Homo sapiens: one gene and its partner. The protein of the gene in region 1 interacts with the protein of each later gene in a pairwise test. Each region holds a gene or a part of one and is shown in the gene's direction. Other genes may lie near its edges.

Evidence for each region.
Region 2: the proteins of MNAT1 (region 1) and MAGEE2 interact in a two-hybrid assay, tested with the Homo sapiens proteins (one study listed by BioGRID).

What each region holds. Positions count from the first base shown.
Region 1 is NC_000014.9:60,804,994-60,817,530, forward strand, and holds part of MNAT1 (CDK-activating kinase assembly factor MAT1), read left to right. Parts: intron 1-3,331; coding exon 3,332-3,435; intron 3,436-6,993; coding exon 6,994-7,134; intron 7,135-12,537.
Region 2 is NC_000023.11:75,780,520-75,793,725, reverse strand, and holds MAGEE2 (melanoma-associated antigen E2), read left to right. Parts: upstream 1-8,471; 5' UTR 8,472-8,674; coding exon 8,675-10,246; 3' UTR 10,247-10,739; downstream 10,740-13,206.

The sequences.
Region 1 (12,537 bases):
CGCTTACTTTTCAGTAGATTCATACCATAAGAAACCAAGATAATTTAGTCCTGTCCTTTTGAACCTTCCTCCTTTGCCATGTTCAAATCAGTAATTATAAAGGTTATTTTAGTTAAATCTATAATTATAAAAGTAATTATAAATGTTGGGTATTAGTTTATTTTTTCTCTCATGATAATTCAACAAGTATTTCTTGAGCCCTTACCAGATGAGAAGTTTTTTCTTTTTTCTTTTTTTTTAAAAGTAGACTTTTTTTTAGTGAAGTTTCAGATTCACAGCAAAATTGAGCAAAAAGTATAGAGAATTCCTATATATCTCTTCCCTCTACATGTGCACAGTGCACAGCCTCCCCCATTATTAACATCCTGCACCAGAGTGGTACATTGTTACAATCAATGAACCTACATTGAGATATCATTATCACACAAAGTCTGTAGTTTACACTAGGATTCATTTTTGGTGCTGTATACCCTATGAGTTTTGACAAACGTATAATAATGTGTATCTACCATTATATCATACAGAGTCATTTTAACTGTCCTAAAAATCCTTTGTGTTTTTCTGTGTGTTTATTCCTCCCTACCCCAACCCCTGACAAACACTGTTCTTTTTAGTTTTTATAGTTTTGACTTTTCCAGAATGTTATATAGTTGGAATCATACAGTATGTAGCCTTTTCAGATTGGCTTCTTTCACTTAGCAATATGCATTTAAAGCTCCTCTGTGTCTTGGCTTTATAGCTGATTTCTTTTTAGTGCTGAATAATATTACATTTTTTTAAATCTGCTGAAGGATGTCTTGGTTGCTTCCAAGTTTTGGCAATGATTAATAAAGCTGCTGTTACCATTCATGTGTGGGTTTTTGTGTGAACATGTGTTTTCAATTCATTTGGATAAATACCTAGGTGCTTGATTGCCAGATTATATGATAGAGTATGTTTAGTTTTGTTAGAAACTAGGAAGCTGTCTTCCAAAGTGGCTATACCATTTCACATTCCCACCAGCAAGGAATGAGAGTCCCTGTTGCTCCAGATCTGCACCAGCATTTTATGTTGTCATTGGAGTTTTGCCATTCTAATAGGAGTGCCTTAGAAGTAGTGGAAGTGATAATAAAGATGAATCAGACCTAGAAACTGCCCTCAAGGAACATTCTAATAGGTCAGACAAGATGTGCACATTGAAAATAATTATACAGGGTAGGAAGTGGGTAAATGCCAGCAGAGCGATATTAGACAATGTATTGTAAGCATTCAGGGATGGAGAGATTGTAACTGCAAAGTGTCTCATAAGGAGGAGCTGGTCATTAAAATGGGTATAGAAGGGTGAGTCATATGTGGATATTCACTGTTGTTCTGGGTTGAGGTTGGTACTGAGATGAGCCCTATGGGTAGGGAACAGTTTAATCACAGGTATGGAAATGGGAAAGTGTAGGGGCATACAAATGCAGAGGACTGCTAGGTAGCAGTGGTTTTCAGGCATTGAGAGAAATGACACAACTAGTTTTGTAGGCATTGTAGATAAAAGTTCAGGTTTGGAATCAGATAGCCTAGGTTAATGGCTGGGCATGGTGGCTCACGCCAGTAATCCCAGCACTTTGGGAGGCCAACGCGGGTGGATCACTTGAGGCCAGGAGTTCAAGACCAGCCTGGCCAACATGGTGAAGCCCTGTCTCTACTGAAATATACAAAAATTAGCCAGGCATGGTGGTGCATGTCTGTAATCCAAGCTACTTGGGAGGCTGAGGTTGGATCTGGTAGATGTTGAGGATGGTGAGAGTTGTGAAAGATCATTGGATTTGGTTGCTTAGAGGATGGCCTATTAAATACAAGAGGTAGATTTTGAGTGGTTGGTAAAGATAGTGGAATCACCATTTTAACTAAGGATCAGAGGTAACTTTTTGAGAGTGCTGCTTGTCTGGAGCCTCCCTCTGACTGTTTTGTGTCAGGACTAGAGTGTGATTTATGAAGATTGTCCCACATTGCATCCTAGCCAGATTCCCTGACTTATTTTCTTTCCCACTTTATGTTAAAAAACTGGAGAAGTTGCTAGAGGATAATTGCTTCTCATTTTCTCTCAATTCTTCCAGATTTAAAATTGCGTATGATAAAACTGAATAGACTTTTGCCTTTATACCTAAATGAGCCTGGATTTTCAACAGTGATTATGATAAATTGATGTTCTGAAATAAGTTGGCCTTTTGAGAAGAAAAAAATGAAATTATAGATCAAACTGGTCATTTGAGTCTGTTTGATGGCTTTACTCAACAAAACAAGCAACTCTGTGTTGGTCCTCCGGTGTTACTTTTCAACTCTTATAAGCTATTAAAGGAAAGAGTGAGATGGGGAAGCAATCTGTAGAAACCCAAGGGATAGAGCAGAGTTATTTAGGGTAGATCCGTCTTGTTTGTAGGGCAAGAAGCAGGAAGCAGTGGTAAGTAATTGGAGAAGGGGTGGAAGGGCTAATAATGGATGTAGAAAGATTACAAGGGAAGCTAAAGGAGGCTTGAATTGAATTATGGAACAGGAGAGTCTTACTGATATGGATTCCTCCATATGAGTTTATATATAGCAAGAAGGTCTTTTTTTAATTGTTCAGAGTATTATAGTAACTTTGATTTACATATGGAAAATTAGAAGGGAATATGGCATTCATAATTCAAATTATTTTGAGTTGGAATTATAAAAAGAGAGTTGTAATTTACAGAAAATTTAGTAGTATCTAAACATGTCTCAGTGGTTCTCTTAAGAAATTCTTTTACTTTAAGTTTTGGTGCCAGTTTATCCTTTATTTTTCTTCTTAAGTTCCAACTCCTTTATTTCATACGTTTCTAGAGCTAGACTACAAGGGAAGTAATTCAAGCCTGTGTCTACTCATGTTGGAGACAATTGGAATGGGGATAAAACCTGTTTTTTGTTTGATATAAATTATAAAAATATATGATTTTTTAACTCTTTTTTTAAAATTCTGATTCTTGTAGTAGATTCCAGACTTACTCTTTATATTAAAAAAATTTAAACAATTTTTTTATGCTTTTAAAGCTAGAGAGGGGACTATAAAAATCAGATCTAAGCACATATCTTAGGTTTTCTGGAGTGATCCTGACATTTAGGTATTTTGTGCGAGTCAGACAGTCTGTCCTTGTGTTTGGCTTGGAAAACATGTTTGCCGTAACTAGAGCTAGTCTCTAAAATAGGTAGCTGATTAAAAGGTCACAAATAGAGCTATAAAGAATGACAACCTAACAAATGAGTCACTGTGGTATTTGTTTTTTATTGTCTACTCAAGATTTATATTAAAAATATTTTTCATGTCATCGTTTCCTTTCTAATGCAGTTTTCAACTTGACCAACAATGTGGATTTGGACAACACCAAAAAGAAAATGGAGATATACCAAAAGGAAAACAAAGATGTTATTCAGAAAAATAAATTAAAGCTGGTCGGTTGCTAAGTATTTTCTTCTTATTTTGTCTTAGAAACAAATGTTTCCACATGATACTTTAAAAAGCCATCTTCCTTTAAACCAGTTACATTTATAGAAAATTTAGCTGAAATTTAGACCAGAAATATGAATATATGCTGTATAGGTATGTAGGTAGGCAGGCACACATTACTGTAGCAAAAACCACTTTGACAGCATTATGTTAGACTGTGCTTTCTTAAGGAAGTGGATCCGTAAGATAGGTGATTGTTAACGCTAGTTTTATCTGCCTGTATAATCTTCTGGTAAGTGAGCATTTGGACAGTGGTCACAAAACACTGGAGGCTCATTTTTATCCTTGGACATTAATTTCTCTAAAGGAGAGAGAAAACCCAGACAGACGGTGATGGAGCTACCAAGAGGGAGATAAAACAAAAACACTATTTATTAGAAACTAAAATGAATTCATGATTAGATCAGAGGAACACATTTGTAAACTAAGGTTAACTTTGGTTTCTCAATTAGTTACCTTTTTTGTTTTACCGAAAGAGTAACATTGCTAGATATAAATATGATTTTGGTTTGTTTTAGTTGATCTCATGTTGAAGTTTGTTTTGAAAATATCTCAGGAGTCATTATTATTATATGTATTAGAATGTATTCTATAAAGAAAAAATTGTATGCATGCAAAGGAGCAATTGTCTAATTTATACACTTTAGCTATCATTTCTATAGTACAGTTTGGCTTTCTAGTTGTAGGGGAAAGCAGAGGTAATTACGTTTGAGATACTTTATCAGGATTTTGTAATAATCAGTGAAAAGGATACAAGTATATTTGGATCACATAGCTTATATTTTCATTTTGTATTTAGAAGAGACTTCCTCCTTGTAGTCTTATAGTGTTTTATATCAGCATTTCTTTCCTGCTGTAAAACTCTCAATGAATTGATACTACATTTTCATTCCATTCATAGCTAGCCTAGCTTTCTTTTAAAAGTATCTTATTTCTGAGAGCATCAGTATGTCATTAATGTTACTCTCTTTGCCTAGTAACCTTCTCTGGGAACATCAGAAGATACATGCAAAATAGGTATGCGTAGGTAAAATGTTTCATTAACCCCAGGTGTTGGTATTACAGATGTGAGCCACCACTTTTATCATGAAAGGGCGTTACATTTTATCAAAGCCTTTTCCTGCATGTATTGATATGATTATGTGATTTTAATTCTTTATTTTGTTAATGTATATTAATTGATTTTGTATGTCAAACCATCTTTCCATCCCAAGGATAATTCCTGCTTGGTTATGTTGTATGATCCTTTTAATGTGCAGTTGGATTCAGTTTATAAGTATTTTGTTGAGAATTTTTGCATTTTTGTTCATCAGGGATATTGGCTCACAGTTTTCTTTCCTTGTGGTACCTTTGTCTGGTTTTAGTATCAGGGTAATAATGCTGGCTTCATAAAATGAGTTTGGAAGTGTCTCCCTCTTCAATTTTTTAGAAAGGTTTGAGAAGGATTGATATTAATTCTTCTTTAAATGTTTGGCAGAATTCACCACTGCCGCTTTTTCTCTGTTAGGAGGTGTGATTACTGATTCAGTGTCCATACTAGTTCTAGGTCTTTTCAGATTTCCTGTTTCTTCATAATTTGGTCTTGGTAGGTTGTATGTTTCTAGGAATTTGTCCATTTCTTCTAGATTAACTGAAGCGTAATATAATTAAGTGTTGGTGTATAATTGTTCATAGTAGTCTCTTATGATCCTTTTATTTCTGTGGCATCAGTTGTAATGTCTCCTCTTTCATTTCTGATTTTGAGTCTTCTCTCTCTTTCATAGTCTTGCAAAGAGTTTGTCAATTTTATATTTTGAAAAAACTTAATTTTGTTAATTTTTTCTGTTCTTTTTCTGTTTTCTATTTCATTTATTTTTGCTCTAATGTTTGTTATTTATTTTAATCCTTTGTTCTGCTTACTTTGAGCTCAGTTTGTTATTAAATTTCTAGCTCCTTGAGATGTAAAGCCAGGTTGTTATTTGAGATCTTTCTTCTCTTTTAAAGTAGGTGTTTATCACAAGAAACTTCCTTCTTAGTACTGCTTTTTTGTATCCCTCAAGTTTTGGTATGCTATGTTTTTGTTTTTGTTTGTCCTGAGGTATTTTCTAATTTCCTTTTTGATTTCTTCTTTGACCCAATGATTATTTGAGTGTATTGTTTAATTTTCACATATGTGCATATTTGTGAATTTTCCAGTTTTCCTTCTGCTATTGATTCCTGGTTTTATTCCATTGTGGTCAGGAAAGATACTTGGTATGATTTCAGTCTTCTTAAATTTGTTAAGACTTGTTTTGTGACCTAACTTGTGACCTATCCTGTAGAAAGTTCTGTGTGTGCTTGGGAAGATCGTGTATTCCGCTGCTGTTGAGTAGAATGTTCTGTATATTTCTGTTAGTTGTTATAACAGAAATATACAGAATTATAAAGTTGTTTAAGACTCCTATTTCCTTACTGATCTTCTTTCTGAAAGTTCCATCCATTACTGAATGTGAGTTAAGTCTCCTACTGTTACTATATTGCTGTCTATCTCTCCCTTCAGTTGTCAATGTTTGCTTTACATATTTAGTTGTTTATAATTGTTATATCTTTCTATATGTTGATCCTTTTATCATTATATAATGTTCTTTGTCTCTTTTGACAGTTTTTTAATTAAAGTCTATTTTGTCTCTTATTATGCTCTTTGTTTCAGTGAATGGTGCCAGCATTCATCCAAGTGTTCAATCCATATTTGGTCAGTCTTTATATTCTGTTGATGATCACTCCTTATCATTTTTAAGCCTCATCCCCACTCTAATTAGATTATTACTTTATTTAGGGCTCTTATTTCTATTCTTTCTTTTTTTTTTTTTTTTTTTTTTGAGATGGAACCTCGCCCTGTTGCCCAGGCTGGAGTGTAATGGTGTGAACTTGGCTCACTGCAACCTTCATTTCCTGGGTTCAAGCGATTCTCCTGCCTCAGCCTCCCGAGTAGCTGGGATTACAGGCATGTGCCACCATGCCTGACTAATTTTTTGTATCTTTAGTAGAGACAGGGTTTCACCATGTTGGCCAAGCTGGTCTCGAACTCCTGACCTTGTGATCCACCCGCCGTGGCCTCCCAAAGTGCTGGGATTACAGGTGTGAGCCGCTGCGTAGGGCTCTTATTTCTTATCTGGGTTATTTGAATATACTTCTAACTAGTCCTCCTATTGTCAGTCTTGAACCCAATTGATCTTTATGTATACCTTACTGCCTCTAGTCATCTTTCTAAACTCATCCCTCAAATTCCCTTAATATGTTCCCAGTGGCCTTAGTATAGCAAAATTCCACTAGTATGGTATAACAGAATAGTTGTTTTATTTAATAGTAACGTGTCTACATGAAATAAAGTAAATTCTATTTTCTTCAATATGGAATTGCTACATTATTAAATAATAAGTGACTAGTGTGTTTTATGCTTCCAATAAAGAAAGTATTAGAGTGTGGTATATGATTGCTCTTGGCTCCTAAATTTATTCCACGCCATATATAAATTTTTGTTTTAGACTCGAGAACAGGAAGAACTGGAAGAAGCTTTAGAAGTGGAACGACAGGAAAATGAACAAAGAAGATTATTTATACAAAAAGAAGAACAACTGCAGCAGATTCTAAAAAGGAAGAATAAGCAGGCTTTTTTAGATGAGCTGGTATGTATTAATGCTAATTGTGATTGTAAAAAACATTCTTCAGGATTTACCTTTCCTAGTAGGCTGGATGATGGCATTTAAAGGGCTTTTCCACAGTGTTTGTAATCTGGTTCACCTTTAGTTTTGTTGGTTATGTATTGATATCAGTGTATTTATTGCTGAATAAGAGGTTGCCCTCCATCCACACTGAACAATATGTTTTTATGCTCACAATTCTGTGGGTTAGGAATTTAAGTGGTTCTTTTGGGCTTTTCTGCTTCCCTAATGTATTCTCAGGACACCTCTCCATGTGGTTTTGATAGCGACAGGAGGCAGCCAAATGCCTAGGCAGATAGGGACGGGTACCCAGAGAAACCCCATCTCCATGTTGAAGACAGTTTAAAACCTGAAAGCCAAGCTACAAGTTAAATCCTTGGACCAGATTGAGAACTTGTCCTCCTGTTTGGTGTGCTTTCCTCTGATTGATCCCCACTCTTCACCTATTTTATGTATATCTACCCTTTCCTAATTGGTTTTCTACACTGTCATGCCCATCTTTGAGTAGTGTCTTCACTTCAACCTTTTTTGCTTACTCATAAGCTAATTCAGCACATTCTCCTCATCCTGTGCCTATAAAGACCCCAGACTCAGTAAGTAGAGGAAGAGACAACCTGACTTCGGGGAAGACGACTTGCTCTTCCTGTCCCCTCTCCAGCTCCCCTCTCTGCTAAGAGCTGTTTTCATCGCTCAATAAAATTATCACCTTCGCCATCTTTTAACCATCCCTGTGACCTCATTCTTCTTGGATGCCAGACAAGAGCTTGGGACCCACCAAGTGTGGGTACCCAGAAAGGCTGTCACACTGGCACTTTGCCCTTCCTGGTGGAGAGCAGCTGCCCTAGGTGACAAGGCCAGAAGCCAACTGAGCTGCCAACACACTGTTGTCTGATGGCAGAACTAAAGGAGCACTGTAACACTTCCCCTGGGGCTTTGGGGTTGTGGGCCCCCTCACCTGGGCACTGCCATGTTCCCCTTGAGGCAACATGCCTGGTCTGGCTGTGGGCCCCACGTAGAGTTTGCTTCTGTGTCCGTGCCTGGGGCGGATGGCTGGGTCCTGCACTTGCTTGCTTGTGTCTGGTCTGACTGCGGGCCCCATGCAAAACTTGTTCCTGTATTGGTGCTTGGAGCAGCTGGCTAGATCTGCGCTGACTCACCCACGTGCTCCCTCCCACATAGAGTTGAGTGCAGTGGGTCTAGTAGAGGGGAGTCCTTACCGTGAATCTAGTGAAGGGGCTGACTACATCAGAAACTGCATCAATTTCTGTAACAGTGTGATTGTACTTCTCACATGTTGGCTCAGGGTTACAAGAGAGAATATCCCAAGAATAAGGAGGTAGAAGATGCTAACATTTTAGGGCTTGGGCTAGGAAACTGGCACAGCACTGATTCCACCATATTAGTAAAAGAGCCCACTCAGTTACAAAGGGAATGGATATAGATCTCACCTCCTAATGGGAGTGTGATGGCCATCTTTAGTCCACACAGTATGTACTGGGGAAAACTATGTTTTTCTAGAATTTGGCATAATATAAATTCATTTGGGATACTCAGTCTCTATCCCAATGTGAGTTTAGTGATAAGAATTATGAAAATGACTTTCATTTTCATATTGTAGTTTGTCTTACCCTTATGCCTATTTATTTATATCATGCCAACTACTATGAAGGATTTAAAGTGATTTCCTAGATAAGAGTATTGTTTGTGGACATGGCACTACTTACTTTGTGTAACTCTAAGAACGATGTTAAAATGAGGTTCTAGTATATTTTACTTCTATATTTTTAAAAAGATTTTTGTTTAATATCCATTTTATTTTCAGATGAGAGAGTGACATTATAACTGAGATGAGCCAGTATATTCTTGATAGATTGTTTATATGGCTTTAAGCTAACTGACTAAAATACATTGTTTCTGAAGCACTTTTCTCCTGATTAATACTATTTTTCTAATAATGAGCTCATTTTGGCTCCATGCTGAAGTTTATATTGACTGTTTACTTTGTGACAATATATTTTATATTTTTGCATAAAAAAATAGTGTATTTTTGCTTGAAAGAAATAGCGGGGTTTTTGCAAATTATTGTTTTCCAGCAATTAGCTTCCTAGGTAGTCAACCTTGTTAGATAATGACAGTAATAATAACTAAGGTTTATGAAGTGTTTCATGGATTTATTACTATATTATTTGATACTTATAACCCTGTATGATATTGATGACTTCACAAACCGGAAAATCTTCCTCTCCAGGAAAGTCTTTTTGCATTCTTCTCTTTCCCTTTATGTTCATATAATTTATTTCCCTGAGGCTTTTGTGTTTGTGTGTGTGTGTGTGTATGCAGTGTTAATACACTTAACTTTCTTGTCTAGTTGATAATGCTATTATCCTATGATTGGGGAAAATATGTATATATGTGTTCTTCTACTGTGCTTTTGCCAAAAAAGCATTTAAGTCAGTTAACCAGGAGTAAAAAAAGAGAAAGCAAGATTACTTAAATTATAAGGAGGTGAGAAACTAAAGGAAAAATAAGGGTAAGGGCATTCATGAGGCTTAGATAGAAAACACTGTCATAAAACTCTATTTTCTATGACTGGAATGTGAATTTGGCTCTAAAAATGAGGACACCAGCATATTAAATAGAATAATGACGCCTTCCCTAGCAACTTTCATTAGTTCTTTCTTGAAACTATTAAGTGGCAGGTATGGCTTTAACAGTGAAATGACATGTTGTATTTTATATTTTTGTAGCTGTTTGGTGAGAAATTAAAAACTTTAAAAATGAATTAGTAAATTGATGTTACTAATTATTAGTATATAGTTACTAATTATAATTGTTTTATTGAAAGATTCTTCCCCTTATCATTTTATACAAAGAGTTACAGGCTCTTTTTTGGATAATGCTTCTCTTCTATATAATTAATTGAATTAATCCCAAATATAGAACTTTGATAGAAAATATGCTTTTAACATTTTATGTTCCATCTAATAAAAAAAGTTTTTAGATTTTATTTTGAGGTTAGCCAGCTTTGCATAACAATTATTCTTGCATATTCTTTTTCCCTTTTTTTTTTTGAGATGGAGTCTTGCTCTGTGCCCCAGCTGGAGTGCAGTGGCGTGATCTTGGCTCACTGCAACCTCTGCCTCCCTGGTTCAAGCAATTCTTTGCCTTAGCCTCCCGAGTAGCTAGGATTACAGGTGCCTGCCACCATGCCCAGCTAATTTTTTTGTATTTTTGGTAGAGATGGGGTTTCACCATCTTGGCCAGGCTGGTCATGAACTACTGACCTTGTGATCCACCCGCCTTGGCCTCCCAAAGTGCTGGGGTTACTGGTGTGAGCCACCGCGCCCAGCCGCATATTCTTTTAGTCTTTAAAGTACTGTTTTGCTGCCTCATTGAGCTGCTATTGACATGAAGCTCCCCTTTGATTCAGTGAGGCATGAAGCAAGATGTGAAACTACCATTGTTGTACATTGTGTGTAATCTGGAGTTAATATTGATTTTTGTGAGTTCTTTCTCCCACTTCCTGTTTTCTTCACCTGCAAGTCATTACTGCACATACTTTCCTCAGTGTTTAGATCATATAACATGATGATTAAATAATTCTTAGTAATTTACTGTATTCATTAGTGCAATTAATTACAACAGATTGGTTTAGAATACCACTGCAGTTTGAATTTCTGGTTTTCATTTTTAAACTTATTTTTAGATTTTGTTATGTTTATTTTTCAGTCTTTATACAATGTTATAAATGTTAAAATACTTTAAATTTTTATGACTAATGAATTCATTAAATTTATTTTTATCCTCTTGAATCCTTATTAACTAAGTAAAAGAACGTATTTCTTTTTCTGTATATGTTCATGTGTGAGATTTTGTTTAAAAAACAATAGCATTTGTAAATATGTCTAGAAGCTTAATTCTTATAATTAATCTCTGGACCTAATTTACACAAGTACTACTTATTAGAATTTTTTTCCTCCTGTTTTTGGTTCTGGTCTTTGTGCCAAAAGTCACTTTTTAACCTTTTAAAAAGTATTTGCATTATATTATACTGTATGTGACGGGATTTTAATGTTATGGTCTTAATGTTTATGGCTTAGTATTTGCAGTAATGTTGGCTAAAAGGTCCATTTATTTAATCCTAACTGTAAATTCAATTTTAAAAAAGTTTGGAAAAAGATTTTTAAACAGGTCCTGGCTTATTAAATCTTTTTATATTCCTGTTTGAAAATTCGCTTCAGTTTATGTCTTAAATTTTGTATGGGCTAATATTGTTGTCAAACGCAGTAGGTGATTTTTATTAGAAATATTGTTTGCCAGATGGCTTGCTTAAAGTCAGTTAAAATAATCTTTTAAAAATGGTCATTATAAAGCTTTTAATGAGTATTACAGGCAGTTCTTACTAAAATTTCTTTAAATATTAAACAGTGTGCCTTCAGGCAATTAATACAGGTTAGGGAACCTTTTAAGGTAAAATGTAATGCAAAGAATGAAATAACTTGAAAGGCTAAATCTGCATGTTAGATATTCCCCAGAGCATGCATGTTTCACATAGTTTATTTTACTCCATTAATATTTTTTGTTGTTGGAACTCCTACTTAATTCTAGTTTAACACTTAGTAAGGCTTCCAGGCTTCAAAATTTGAGTGCTAAAATAGAATAAAGTAGGTTGGAACTAAATTCTGTGCTTCAATATCAAAAGTGTTTTAGATCCTTAGAATGTTTGTTTTTATTAGATTTCAGCTGTTTACCAAGACACTTTAACATTCAGTTCCTTTTATGTGAATGTGAAACCAGGATTAAAACAAGCTAAAGTCTTGACTAGCAACTTTTTTTTTGAAGTTAATACGTTGCTTTTATGTAAGAATTTTTGCTTTTTAAAGGAAATACCAGTTAAAGAAGAGCACTTGAATTGATTTAGAGTATAAATTGAAAAGCAATACTTTTAACTTTTTAGCTAAGGAAATTTATTTTTCTTTTGTTAGTTTCTACATGTGAAAAGATAGAATAGCTTTTAAAAGATATTTTTTTGATCACAGCCCATTAAAAATGTTCTTTAATTTTATATTTTATTATAAAATTCTTAATGTAAATCTAGAATAGCTGCAAGGAATCTTAGCAATACAGTTACTCATGCATTACTAATGCTTTGGTGTAGAATATAAAAGGTATTCTAGTATATTCTCCTCGTACTATATTTCATCACTTTTCCTTCATTATTGTTAAAGCCAGGTCTTAATGATTTTGCTCCTTAATAAGTTTACATCTTATAAATAAATAAAATTTGTGTTCTTCCATTTACTATTAAAAGTTTTAAACTTTGTAACATTGCTCTTGCAAAACACTTCTATTATAAAATCTTGATGT
Region 2 (13,206 bases), on another chromosome or scaffold:
CAAACTATCGCAAGGAAAGAAAACCAAACACTGCATGTTCTCACTCATAGGTGGGATTTGAACAATGAGAACACTTGGACACAGGAAGGGGAACATCACACTCCGGGGCCTGTCATGGGGGGAGGGGGGAGGGATAGCATTAGGAGATATACCTAATGTAAATGATGAGTTAATGGGTGCAGCACACCAACATGGCATATGTATACATATGTAACAAACCTGCACATTGTGCACATGTACCCTAGAACTTAAAGTATAATAATAATAAAAAATAAACCCCTCTGACATGAAAAAAAAGAGGTTCTATTTTGATGTAATTCCAAGATTTGCTTCAAGATTTAGAGCTTGTTTTAGCAGTTCTTGTAGTGCTGGCTTGGTAGTAGCAAATTATCTCAGCATTTGTTTGAAAAAGATTCTATCTTTCCTTCATTTATGAAGCATAGTTTTGCTGGATACAAAATTCTTAGCTGATCAGTGTTTTGTTTGAGGAGGCTGAAGATAGGGCCCTACTCCCTTCTAGATTGTTGGGTTTCTACTGAGAAATCTGCTGTTAATCTGATAGGTTTTCCTTTATAGGTTACCTCAGATTTTAAGATTCTTTCTATCATCTTATCTTTAGATAACCTGATGACAATGTGCCTAGGCAATGATCTTTTTGTGATGAATTTCCCAGGTGTTCTTTGAGTTTTTTGCATTTGGATGTCTAGATTTTAGCAAGGCCAGGGAAGTTTTTTTCAATTATACTCTTCAATACATTTTACAAACTTCATATTTCTCTTCTTCCTCAGGATGGCCGACTATTCTTAGGTTTTGTCATTTATCATAATCCCAGACTTCTTGAAGGCTTTGTTCATATTTTTTTTATTTGTCATTGTTGGATTGGGTTAATTTGAAAACCTTGTCCTTGAGTTCTAAAATTCTTTCCTCTGCTTGTTCAATTATATTGCTGAGACTTTCCAGGGCATTTTGCATTTCCATAATTGCTCCAATGTTTCCTGAAGTTTTGATTGTTTTTATTTATTTATGCTATCCATTTCATTGAATATTTCTCCCTTCACCTCTTTATTTTTTTTTAAATTTCCTTACATTCGGCTTTGCCTTTCTCTGGTGCCTTCCTGATTAGCTTAATAGGTAGCCTTCTGAATTCTTTTTCAGGTAAATCAGGGACTTCTTCTTGGTTTGGATTCATAGCTGGTGAGCTAGTGTGATTTTGGGGGTATGTTAAAGAACTTTGTTTTTTCATATTACCAGAGTTGGTTTTCTGGTTCATTCTCATTTGGGTAGAACCTGTCACAGGGAAGGTCTAGGGCTGAAGGCTGCTGTTCAGATTGTTTTGTCGCACCGGGTGTTCCCTTGTAGTACTCTCCTCCTTTTTCTATGGATGTGGCTTCCTGAGAGCCAAGCTGTGGTGATTATTATCTCTCTTTTGGATCTAGCCACCCAGCAAGTCTACTAGGCTCTGGGCTGGTACTGGGGGTTATCTGCAGAGTCCTGTGATGTGTACCATCTGTGGGTCTCTCAGCCATGGATACCAGCACCTGTCCTGGTGGAGGTGGCAGGGGGGTGAAATGGACTCTGTGAGGGTTCTTAGCTTTGGTGGTTTAATTCACTATTTTTGTGCTAGTTGGCCTGTCGGGTGCTTTCCTGAGAGCATCAGCTGTGGTACTATGGGGAGAAACAAGCGGTGAGTGGGGCCCTAGAACTCCCAAGAGTATATGCCCTTTGTCTTCAGTTACCAGGGTACGTAGGGAAAGACCATTGTGTGGGGGCAGGGCTAGGCATGTTTGAGCTCAGACTCTTTCCTTGGGCATGTCTTGCTGTGGCTGCTGTGGGGGATAGGGATGAGGTTCCCAGGTCAATGGAGTTATGATCTTAGGAGGATTATGGCTGCCTCTACTGTGTTACACAGGCTGTCAGGGAAGTGGGGGAAAGCTAGCAGTCACAGGCCTCACCCAGCTTCCACTCAACCCAAAGGGCTCGGCTGGAGGTTTCCTTTTCCTTGTGGCCTTTCCCCAGTGCTTCTGGCAGTCCTCTTCAAGAACCCCTGTGAGGCAAAGCAGAAATGGCTTGCTAAGGAACCCAGTAAGTCAACAGGGCTTTCCCTGCTGCTTTCTCTACCCCTGTATTTCAGTCCGCTCTCTAAATTGACTAAGCTCCAGGTAAGGTCAAAATATTCTCCTCTAATCTAGACCTTCAGGTTTCCCAGTGGGGGAGTGTGTTCAGGGGTGGATGATCTCCCTTTCCCAATTCCAGTTTGGGCACTCACAGTATTTGGGGTGTCTCCTGGGTCCTGCAGGAGCAAACCACTTCCTTCAGAGGGACTGTGGGTTCTCTTGGTTTTCCTAATGTATTCCAGCAGTCGTTCTGAAGCAAAAGTTCATGATGCAAGCCTACACATAGCCTGGTATACTATCAGATAAGCCTTGGTGCTCTCCTGTTGAACATGAACATTTTCACACATCACCAACTTCAGATAAGACCAATCTATGACCAAAACTGATCAAGACAAAAACATAACTACTGTATAATCAGATCTGAGCACATTAAAATATGTAGATTGTCTCTGCAACAAAAATTACCAAGCATACCTATATCCTTGCTAACATGAGTGAGTGTCACTCCTTTACCAATTATATTCTTAGCCTTATTCTAAGCTTCTGTCCTTCTAGATAAGATTTGTTAAGACACCCAAACATAGAATTCCCCTAGTTCCTGTCAGAATCCAATCCTGAGTGAACACCCACATCCTTTACATCCTCCACCAAATCACACAAATGAAGCTCAGATCTCATAATAAGTCCCTTTCACATCCACTTACTGAGACAATTCTCCATAATGTGTGTTGTCCCTTTAATGAGCAATAAACCCAATTTGTTCAACTACAGGTATATCCTTGGTTGTCAATATCTAGAGGGCATTTATACTCAAAAGCATATTGAGAAAAATTAGAGATCAAAATACATGAAGGGGTACACCATATTAAGGGATTGTAAGACTTGATATTTTAAAAATACTGACTCTCTTAAATTGGGAAATGACAAAATTCCAAGGCTTCTCAAGTATGAATGTTGATAATAAATTCTAAAATTTAAATAAAATGCAATGGGGCATGAATAGTCAATGCAATATTTAATAAGAACTAGAAAACTAACATTACCATATAGTAATACCTATCAAATTAAAACAATTAAGACAGTGTGGTATTATTGCAAGATAAACAACCTGAGAAATGGAACAACATTGAGAAGATATAAAAAAGCCCATACATATTTGATCACCTGATTTACGATAAGCATGATACTACAATGCCATGATGAAAGCTGGGTTTTCTTTTTTGCAATAATGGTGCTTCATAAATTGAAAATTGGTGTGGTATTTTACCATTTACCATGTGGTGGAAATAAAATGAAAATTCGACCTCTTACCTTACATCATACTCAAAAATAAATTCCAGATAATTTTTACATCTCAAAATAAAAGGTAAAACAATAAATCGTATTTGAAGAAGGCACAGAAATACCTCATTGTCACCTTGGTATACACAAAGATTTTTTAAACATAGCTCATAAAGCACTAATCACATAGGAAATTAATTGATAATGTGGACTACACAATGACTAAGAACTTCTGCTCATTGAAAGATAACATTAAGACTGTGAAAATGTAACCAATATATGAGATAAAACATTTGCAGTACATATATTTGACAAAAGACTTGTATCTATAAAGTACAAAACTTTACAAGTCAACAAGAAAAGAAAGACAGATCAGTTGAAAAAAATGGGCAAAACACTTGAACAAGTATCTCACAAAAGAGAATATCCAAGTGGCTGATAAACACATAAAAATGAGGTCAGTGTTATTTGTTACCAGTGATAGGTAAATTAAAATCATAATACCATACTGCTTCACCACTCATTAAAATAGTTATCATGAAAAAGGAAAAAAAAAGCAAGTATTGGTTAAGACATGGAGAAACCAGAACACTCATTCTCTGCTTATGAGAGTACAAATTGGTGTGACTCCTTCTGGGAATTCTTCAAAGTAGCTGAAAGTATGCATAATCTGTGATCCAAAAATTGTGTTCCTAAGTACCCAATATGAGTGTATGCAAAAGTTCATGAAATGACATATACTAGAATATTAAAAGCAGCACTATTTATTCCAAAAACTGGAAATTACCCAAATGCCCATTGCCATTATAATGAGTAAAAATATATATGTTCAAAAAATAGAAAGCTATAAGGCAAACAATCGAATGTTTTATAATCATAAACAACAGTATGCATGAATCTCACAAACATAATATTCACTAAAAGATGTTAGACACGAAAATAACTATACTGTATAATTCCAATTATATAGAGTTTAGAAATGGGCAAAAATGAATCTATGGTGTTAAAACTTAAGATGATGTTTACTCTTGGGACAGAGGGTCTTCAAATGAGTGGAAGGAGGTGTAAGGGGGACCTCTGGTTGCTGGTAATATTCTGTTTGTTGACTGGCTGCTTGTCATACAAATATGTCCAACTTATGAAAATTCATTGACCTGCATACTTATAATTTACACACTTTTATATAGAAATGTTGTATTTAATAAAAGTATGAAAAAAGAGAAAATTAGAAGAACAAATACTAAAATGTTAAAAACAAATATCTCGGGTGGGTGGAATCATGGATATTCAAAAAAATTTTGACATGTTCTTGTATACTCCAACTTAATAATAATCAGGTCTTGTTATTTGAAACTGAATAAATATTATTGCTTAAAAATGAATTGAATCTAAATGCTTATTACAATTTTAGATATAAAGAAATAAATATAAAAATTTGGGGTATAGCTACCACAATATTATAGCCATACAATGTCATCCAGGGATGATATTTTATGTATGTGAATTTTCTATGTAATTATAATGTTCACTTGAGCACCAATCTTTTTTTTAAAAAAAGTTATGATTTTCTGGATTTAAAATTCTGTAATACTTACTTATCTGCCCTCTTAAACAAAAGTTAACTTTTCTTGGTAAGTCGAGGTCATTCATGATTATACTATACAGTAAAGAATTTGAGAAAAATTAGAACATCTAGGCATTTCTGTCCTTGCACTGAATGCCCTCAGATAACATAGTATTTCAGTCACAATGTCAGCTATGAACATTGTTTCCATCTCCTTCCATTTGAATTATCTATCAATTATCACTTCTTGAGGCTACCTTCTAGCTACTCATACTCCCATACTTCTTAATATTCTGCCTTTAATAACCATTAGCCTGATAAGATAAATGACCAGCTTTTTATGAAAAGTGTTTTTTAAAAAGCTAAATATGAGTAAAAAAAATTATAATGATATACCACAATGCACCCACCAGAATGCCTACAATCAAACAGAACAATAATACCAAGTGTGGACAAGAATACAGAGCAATAGAAATTTTTATGCACTACATGGAGTACAAACTGATGCAAGAATTTTGAAAAACTCTCTGGTAATATCTATGAAAACTAAAAATATACATACTTGTGACCTAGTAATTTTACTCATAGACTTATTTCCAACATAAATATACACATAAACTAAAAGAAAAGTGCAAAAAGGTTCATAGTAACATTACTTGCAATAGCCACAAATGGGAAACAAAGCAAATGCCCATCAACAGTTGACAGGGTAAGTTGTGGTACATATTTCTACAATGGTAAACTATATAGTAATGATAATGAAAAAACTACTTTTATATACAACATGGGTAAATAACACAGTGTAGGATTTTGTTGGAAAAAGATAAATACAAATAAATATATGATGTATAATTCTACTAATATTAGTCAAAGTTTGGGTGGAGGCAAAACTAACTGTGATGCTAGAAGTCTGAACAGGGGTTTTCTCTCAGGACAAATGAGTGGGAAGAGATTGGGAGGGAGTGTCATGGGAGCTTCTGAGATGCTGTAATGGTCTGTTTCTTGAGTGGCATCATGGTCAGATGGTATGTTAAATTTATCATAATTTATCAAGCTCTACATTCATGATTTGTTTACTCTGTGTATGCCATATTTCAATATTAACGTGAAAAAACACTTTATTAAAATTGTTCTGGAAATGTATAAAAAGGAGGTCAGGAAGCATCAAAAAAAGTTCAGAATGGAGAGCATGATCTCATCTTTTTTACATTATACTTAAAGAGCGGAAAACATGCCATATGTCACAGTCACAGAGACAGCTTTTTGTTATTCATTTAACAATAACTAGAACTTTTTAGAAACTTGTAGAATAGAAATAGCTGAGACAAGAAGTGTAGCTCAATATGGCCAGGAAGAAGATATCATGGAAGGATGTACTGGGGAATAAAGATGAAGATAGAGAGCCAAGTAGCGACCAACTTGTTAAGGGTTTCAATGCTGTGGAATGGGATCAGGATGTCATTTCAGAGATAAGATGCTGCCATTCAATGTTGCTTTTCTTTATTAGATGGAGGGAGTAGTAGGAGGTTCAACTCGCGACAAACTGTGAGCTGAATTTCAGGGGGAAAATGTACCAAATTGTTTGTTTTTGTTTATAACTAGAGAGCTTAAAGATCTTATCTCAATTTGCCCCCTGGGAAGCACCTATCTAAGACAAGGAACAGGAGCCCTTCTGGGGAAGGTTAAAGACCAGGGTGAAGGGCCCCATCAGGTCTGGCCTTAATCATACCTTTGTAGCAGCTTGGAAGACAGTGCTGGTTTCTACAACACTCTCCCCGAAAAAAGGATCAGCATACAAACCACACATTTCTACCGTCTAGAACATGCACATTCATTTGTGTAAACATTGATCTCTTTAGCCTAGTTTGACTAAATTCGTGGCCCTGAGTTACCTACTTCAGTACTGAAGAAAGCACCTGGGATGTAGACAATTTCAGAGGTGAGTAACCCCCACATGTGAAGACAGTAGCCTCTGAAGGAATTCCAGGGCATAAGATTACTGAATGTAATGTTCTGTGGAATGTAACAGTATTCATTACCATCAAGAATTTAAGGAAGAATTTCAATTGTAACTGCAGATGGCAACCCTATATAAATCTTTTCCCTTTCCAATGCCGCACTGAAAAATGCAACCATCATAGTCTTCAACTTGATGATTGAAGTCTAGGATTACACCTATGTTTTAGCCCAACTATTTTAGTAGAGCTCTCAGAAAATAAAGCAGCTGACTCACCTCTTCCTGGCAAAAGTGTTTGGATTATGCCTCCCCAAACACACGTGTGCTGGCACGCATACACATACATAAACCCTCTGAATAAATAGCTTCTATTCTGACGCTGCCATTCCTGCCCTGTGGGGCCACAACAAGCTTTGACATACTAAGTGAAGAACAGAAAATCCAATCCTTACTGTCTAGCAACCTTCATCCTCATCTACCACCCATTCTAGTGCACTCTGGCTCTAGTCACCGTGGTGAGTGGCTGTTACACAAACTTGTACCTACACTCCTCTAGGCCTTTCCTGTTGCTGTTACTTCAGGTTAGAATACTACTATAAACCCTTCCCATTTATTCATCACTTAGAGCTCAACTCCTTCTTGAGGCTTTATTGGAAACTGCCCGCAATTTAACATACCCCAGACTAAGCTGTAATTCAATACTTACCTCTGTGTTTGTATCACATGTTAATTCACCCTCCATCAGAGCACCTATTTTCATCTATTTTATGAGTCATGTTTAATAAATAAGGTTAAAGATCAGATGGTGTGAGAGAAAGTAATATGCTTGAGACTGACAGACCTGAGTGGTCTCTTTCATTTATTGCTGCTTGACTTTGGACAGGTACATTTACCTCCATGACCCAGTTTCCTCATCTGTAAAATGAGGATCATTAAGAGTAGCTATCTAAGAGCTAGCATTATATGAATAAGTATGAGGAAAATGAAAGCACCAGAAAGAGTGCCTGCACATAGTCAGTGCTCCATAAGTGTTATCTCTCATTATTATTACCATTGTTTGAACATACCCCAGAATGTAAGCTCCACACAAAAAGGGAAAAATCACTATGTTTGTATTCTGATGTACAGCACTGTGCCTGGCATGTGGCATGTGGTCAGTAAATATCTGTTGAGTGAATGGAAGCTTTAACGAGTCTGTGAAATAATTCTAATCGTTAGCGCCCTCCTCCTCCTCCTCCCTTCCTCCACCTTCTGCTCCTCCTCCTCCTCTCTGAATCCTCTACCGCCTGATAGCATGGTGCTTTAAGCCCCACAGAAAAACTTCAAGTGGAGGGAGCATCACTGAACGGCTCCTCATCCCTTGACCCTTTTGCTATATCTGTTACTCCATTTCTCGAATTCTCTTCTCTAACAAGTTCGAATTCAGCAGCAACCACTTCAACCAGCCTAGCCTGCCCTTCAGAGGTGAGGGGGCAGGAATGAGAGACAAAGCATGGAAGACGAGGAGTGGGGCGTGGCCACCACAATGCAAAGACTGACTGCGCCTGCGTAGGCTGCGGCAAAATAACGCTCTGAGGCTTGCAGTCGTTGCTGGCCAGCACTTGTGTAGAAAGATCGCTCTTCACACCAGATTTCACTTTTGATCCTTCCAGCTCCAGGGTCTCGGGCTTCAGCTTTGTGCCGAGGCACCAACACTGCTGCGGTCCTCTCTCCGACTGATCGCTGATCTCACCGTTCCCGCTCCTGTCTCCTGGAACCATGTCTCTGGTAAGCCAGAATGCACGCCACTGTAGCGCAGAGATCACTGCAGATTACGGCGACGGCAGAGGTGAAATACAAGCTACTAACGCCTCCGGGTCCCCCACCTCCATGCTAGTCGTTGATGCCCCCCAGTGCCCTCAGGCGCCAATCAACTCTCAGTGTGTCAACACTTCCCAGGCCGTTCAGGACCCGAATGACCTGGAGGTCCTGATCGACGAGCAGTCCAGACGTTTGGGGGCGCTCAGGGTCCATGACCCTCTAGAAGACAGGTCGATTGCTTTGGTGAATTTCATGAGAATGAAAAGCCAGACGGAGGGGTCTATCCAGCAGTCCGAGATGCTGGAGTTTCTCAGAGAGTACTCAGATCAGTTCCCTGAGATCCTCAGACGAGCCTCAGCTCACCTGGACCAGGTCTTTGGGTTGAACCTGAGAGTTATTGATCCTCAGGCTGACACCTACAATTTAGTCAGCAAACGGGGTTTCCAGATCACCGATAGGATAGCGGAGTCCCTGGACATGCCAAAAGCAAGTCTCCTGGCCCTAGTCCTAGGCCACATCCTCTTGAATGGGAACCGAGCAAGAGAGGCCTCCATTTGGGACTTGCTGCTAAAAGTTGATATGTGGGATAAGCCTCAGAGGATCAACAACCTCTTTGGGAACACAAGGAACCTCCTCACTACTGACTTTGTGTGCATGCGATTCTTGGAGTACTGGCCGGTGTATGGCACTAATCCCCTTGAGTTTGAGTTCTTGTGGGGCTCTAGAGCCCACAGGGAAATCACAAAGATGGAAGCCCTGAAGTTTGTGTCAGATGCCCATGATGAAGAACCCTGGAGCTGGCCAGAAGAATATAATAAGGCCCTGGAAGGTGACAAAACCAAAGAAAGAAGCCTGACTGCTGGCTTAGAGTTCTGGTCGGAGGACACTATGAATGATAAGGCAAATGATTTGGTCCAGTTGGCTATTAGTGTCACTGAGGAGATGCTGCCTATACATCAGGATGAGCTATTGGCTCACACTGGCAAAGAATTTGAGGATGTGTTCCCAAATATCCTCAATAGAGCTACTCTAATTCTTGATATGTTCTATGGGTTGTCTCTGATTGAGGTTGATACCAGTGAGCACATCTACCTCCTTGTCCAGCAACCAGAATCAGAGGAAGAGCAAGTGATGCTAGAGAGCCTGGGGAGACCCACTCAAGAATATGTAATGCCAATCCTAGGTTTGATCTTCCTGATGGGCAACCGTGTCAAAGAGGCCAATGTCTGGAACTTGCTTCGAAGATTTAGTGTGGATGTAGGGAGAAAGCATTCCATCACCCGTAAGCTTATGAGACAGCGCTATCTGGAATGCAGGCCACTGTCCTACTCTAATCCAGTTGAATATGAGCTTCTATGGGGTCCTCGAGCTCACCATGAAACCATCAAAATGAAAGTCTTGGAGTACATGGCCAGGCTCTACAGAAAGCGACCACAGAACTGGCCAGAACAATATAGGGAGGCTGTGGAAGATGAGGAGGCCAGAGCCAAATCTGAGGCAACTATCATGTTTTTCCTTGACCCCACGTGAAGTCTAGGGAATATGTATCACTTCAGCTGAGTGGCATAAGTTAAAGATGCCTTGGTAAAATAGGCATTGGGGCTCTAAATTAGAATCCAGGTAGGGCTTGTGTGGGAAGTACAAATTGTGCTTGCTGTCTGTGTTCCAATTCTAGTAGTATTTCCTTCCTTTTAATATACTCTTGGATTAGGTTAATGACCAATATTTATAAATGGAATTTTTCATTTGCCATCCCGGTCTTGTTTCAGCATAAAAGTTCAGACAGCTCTGTAAAATGTATTGATAATATTTACATCTTTGAAATAATCAGTAAAATGGTCTGGTACAGGAGTTAAATAACAATGACACACACACAACAAAACAAACACAAAACCACTGATCTGTGATTGCTCTCCCTTTGTGTCTACTGCCGTATACATATATACAACTATATATACACAAATATATATATACACAAAACTGTCATTTACCTGTATTTGCAATAAAAGCATAATGAATTAGACCCTATGCTTGTGCATTCATTTATTCTATAGGCATTAAGCACCTGCCATGCTCTGAGAACAGTGCTGTGTGCTGGGAATAAAAGAGTGAAGAAGACCCAGCTGGGCTCCAGAGCTTAAGGGGGAGGGCTCATGGAAGTAAACAAGCAATTATATTATGCTATGGAAAGTGGCATAATAGGCATAAGCTCAGAGTTCTATGAGAGTCCACAAGAATAACTCCCGATTTTAAGTGCTGGGAAGGATAGTGGGAAGGTGATGGCATCTAAGATAGTCTGGGGAAGGTGCAGGGGTGTCAAGCCTGGATGAGTGGGAAAGTAGTCAGGAATAGTGGTGGGAAGGATGAAGTGGTATGGAGGGCTGGGGACAAGATGTGCTTTAGTGACATCTATTGTAAGATCTGAGGTTGGGGAGAGGAAGGGAAGGACTGCTAGTGAAGACAGAAGCAGCGTGTAAAGCACCTGTGAAGAATTTGAAATAGCTCAGAAAGACAATGACTTTAAAGGAGGAGTGGGAGAAATAACTCTGTGGCAGAGGTAACAAGGGCCCATATCCTCAGAGTGACTCTTGAGAGCCAACAATGGCCTTGCACCTTCAGTCAGACTGAAAAATCTACCTGGAGGAACTCTGCAGGGGATCCTCTGCCAATGCAGTTTATTTCAGCACCCAAGCTGTTAAGGTGAGTGTTTGCATTTAGGCTGTCTTCATTCTGATCCCCCTTACAGCTTCTAACCTGTCTCATAGCTCCCCATAAGCCTTCCCTAGAGAGCCAGCAGGTAACAATTTCTGAGACGGAGCCCTGGTATAAGGATGAGTGTCATATGGAAAATCACTTATTACAGAGGGATGGCTGCTGCCTACCGGTAGTGTAGGATCTATATGTCTTCATTTCCTGGCACACAGAAGCTTTCTGCCTTTTTCATCCATTTAATCACCGGGGGCTACTCCCATCTGCTACCTCCTATTAGATGGGAGAGAGTTGGAAGACATTCCTCACATTTTCATCAGCCTCAGGAAGAGAACGACACAATCGTTTCGCTGGGGGAGCGGCAGGGAGAAGGAAGATATGCCGTTTTGTATCCAAAGTCTGGCCGGTTGAGATGCAGAAGCCTAATTAGAGCTGTCGGCCTGGGGATGCCACTGCGCAGGCGCACTCCGCGGTTGCTAGGGCAATACAGCCCAGTCTCAGTGATCTTCCCATCGGTAGCATTCCAAAGTCTGAATGCTAAGGGCAGGGCTTCTAGCGACGAGAAAATGAGTAATTGGAAAGTCTGGTCTGAAAGGGTTCTTGAAAATGGGGTGGGGTGGGGTTGTCAGGCGGGAGAGTATCCAACTCAAAATCTGGGACCTTGGAACAAAATCTTGCCTGTGTGCTAAACAGCAATTCTCTCATTCTTCAGCTCCCTTGGACTGTTAACCCATACATGCTTGTGAGACGGGAGAGGGTATGGAAGCAAGCACGTTAAGTTGCCAAGTTTTTTTTACTCTGACTTTTTGGATTGGTGCAATTTCTGGGTCCACAAACATGTCAGCTCTTCTGGGGGGCTCCAGTAAAGAGAGAAAGAAATCTGCCAAGGGGAACATGTAGCATCTGGACAACGATGATCAATGTAATGCTGCCAATTGTTTTAATACTAAATATGCGTCAGGCACTGTGCTGGGTTCTTCATGTTCTTAGATCTAATCTTTCCACCATTTCTCTAAGAAGCATTTTAATAGTCCCACTTAACACTACAGGAAACTGAGGCTTAACTAATATGCCCAAGGTCACACAGCCAGTCAATGAGAACTGGGCTTGGAGTCCAAGGATCCCCACTCTGGGCCTGTCCAATAATTCCCCTCAAATTTTCTGACTTTTGGAATATACAAAGAAAGGCTGCATGGTCAGAGTGGAGAAGCAAGATGATAGCACTCAGGAGAATGAAAGTGAAGCTGAAATTTCTCCAGGCTCTTCCTTGTTCCACCACTGGGGCTCCATGAGAGCTGTCTTGGTATAGAGTATGCATTTCTGTCCAGTCTCCCTACTCTGACCTATGAGTCTTCTCCAGCTGAACCTCTTCAAGCCTCCAGCCTTATCTGCTTATCTCATTTAGAGAGCGTCAAATATCATCGTTTCTGGAGCTCCAGAAGTGTTAAGTAATTTTTTTGGAATCTTGAAAGAACAATGACCTGAAAGAACTTCTGACCTGCCCAGGGTTGCTCAGAGTTGAAGAACAGAAGTGGGAAATAGCCCTGTGTCACAGAGACCACGTGCAGTTTTCCAGAAGTGACAAGAGTGAGACTTGCAGGGCACATGCCTATGGTGTGGGAAAAGGTATAGTCTCTCTGTGTCCACAGCCATTCCTTTGAAGACCAAGAGAGATTTGAGTACTCCCATCCTTTAGGCACCAATTTAGAATTAACGCCCACTAAGAAACACTTAGGGGTAGAAGTGAGTGTCTGGTAAACAAGACTTACAGAGGATGCTGT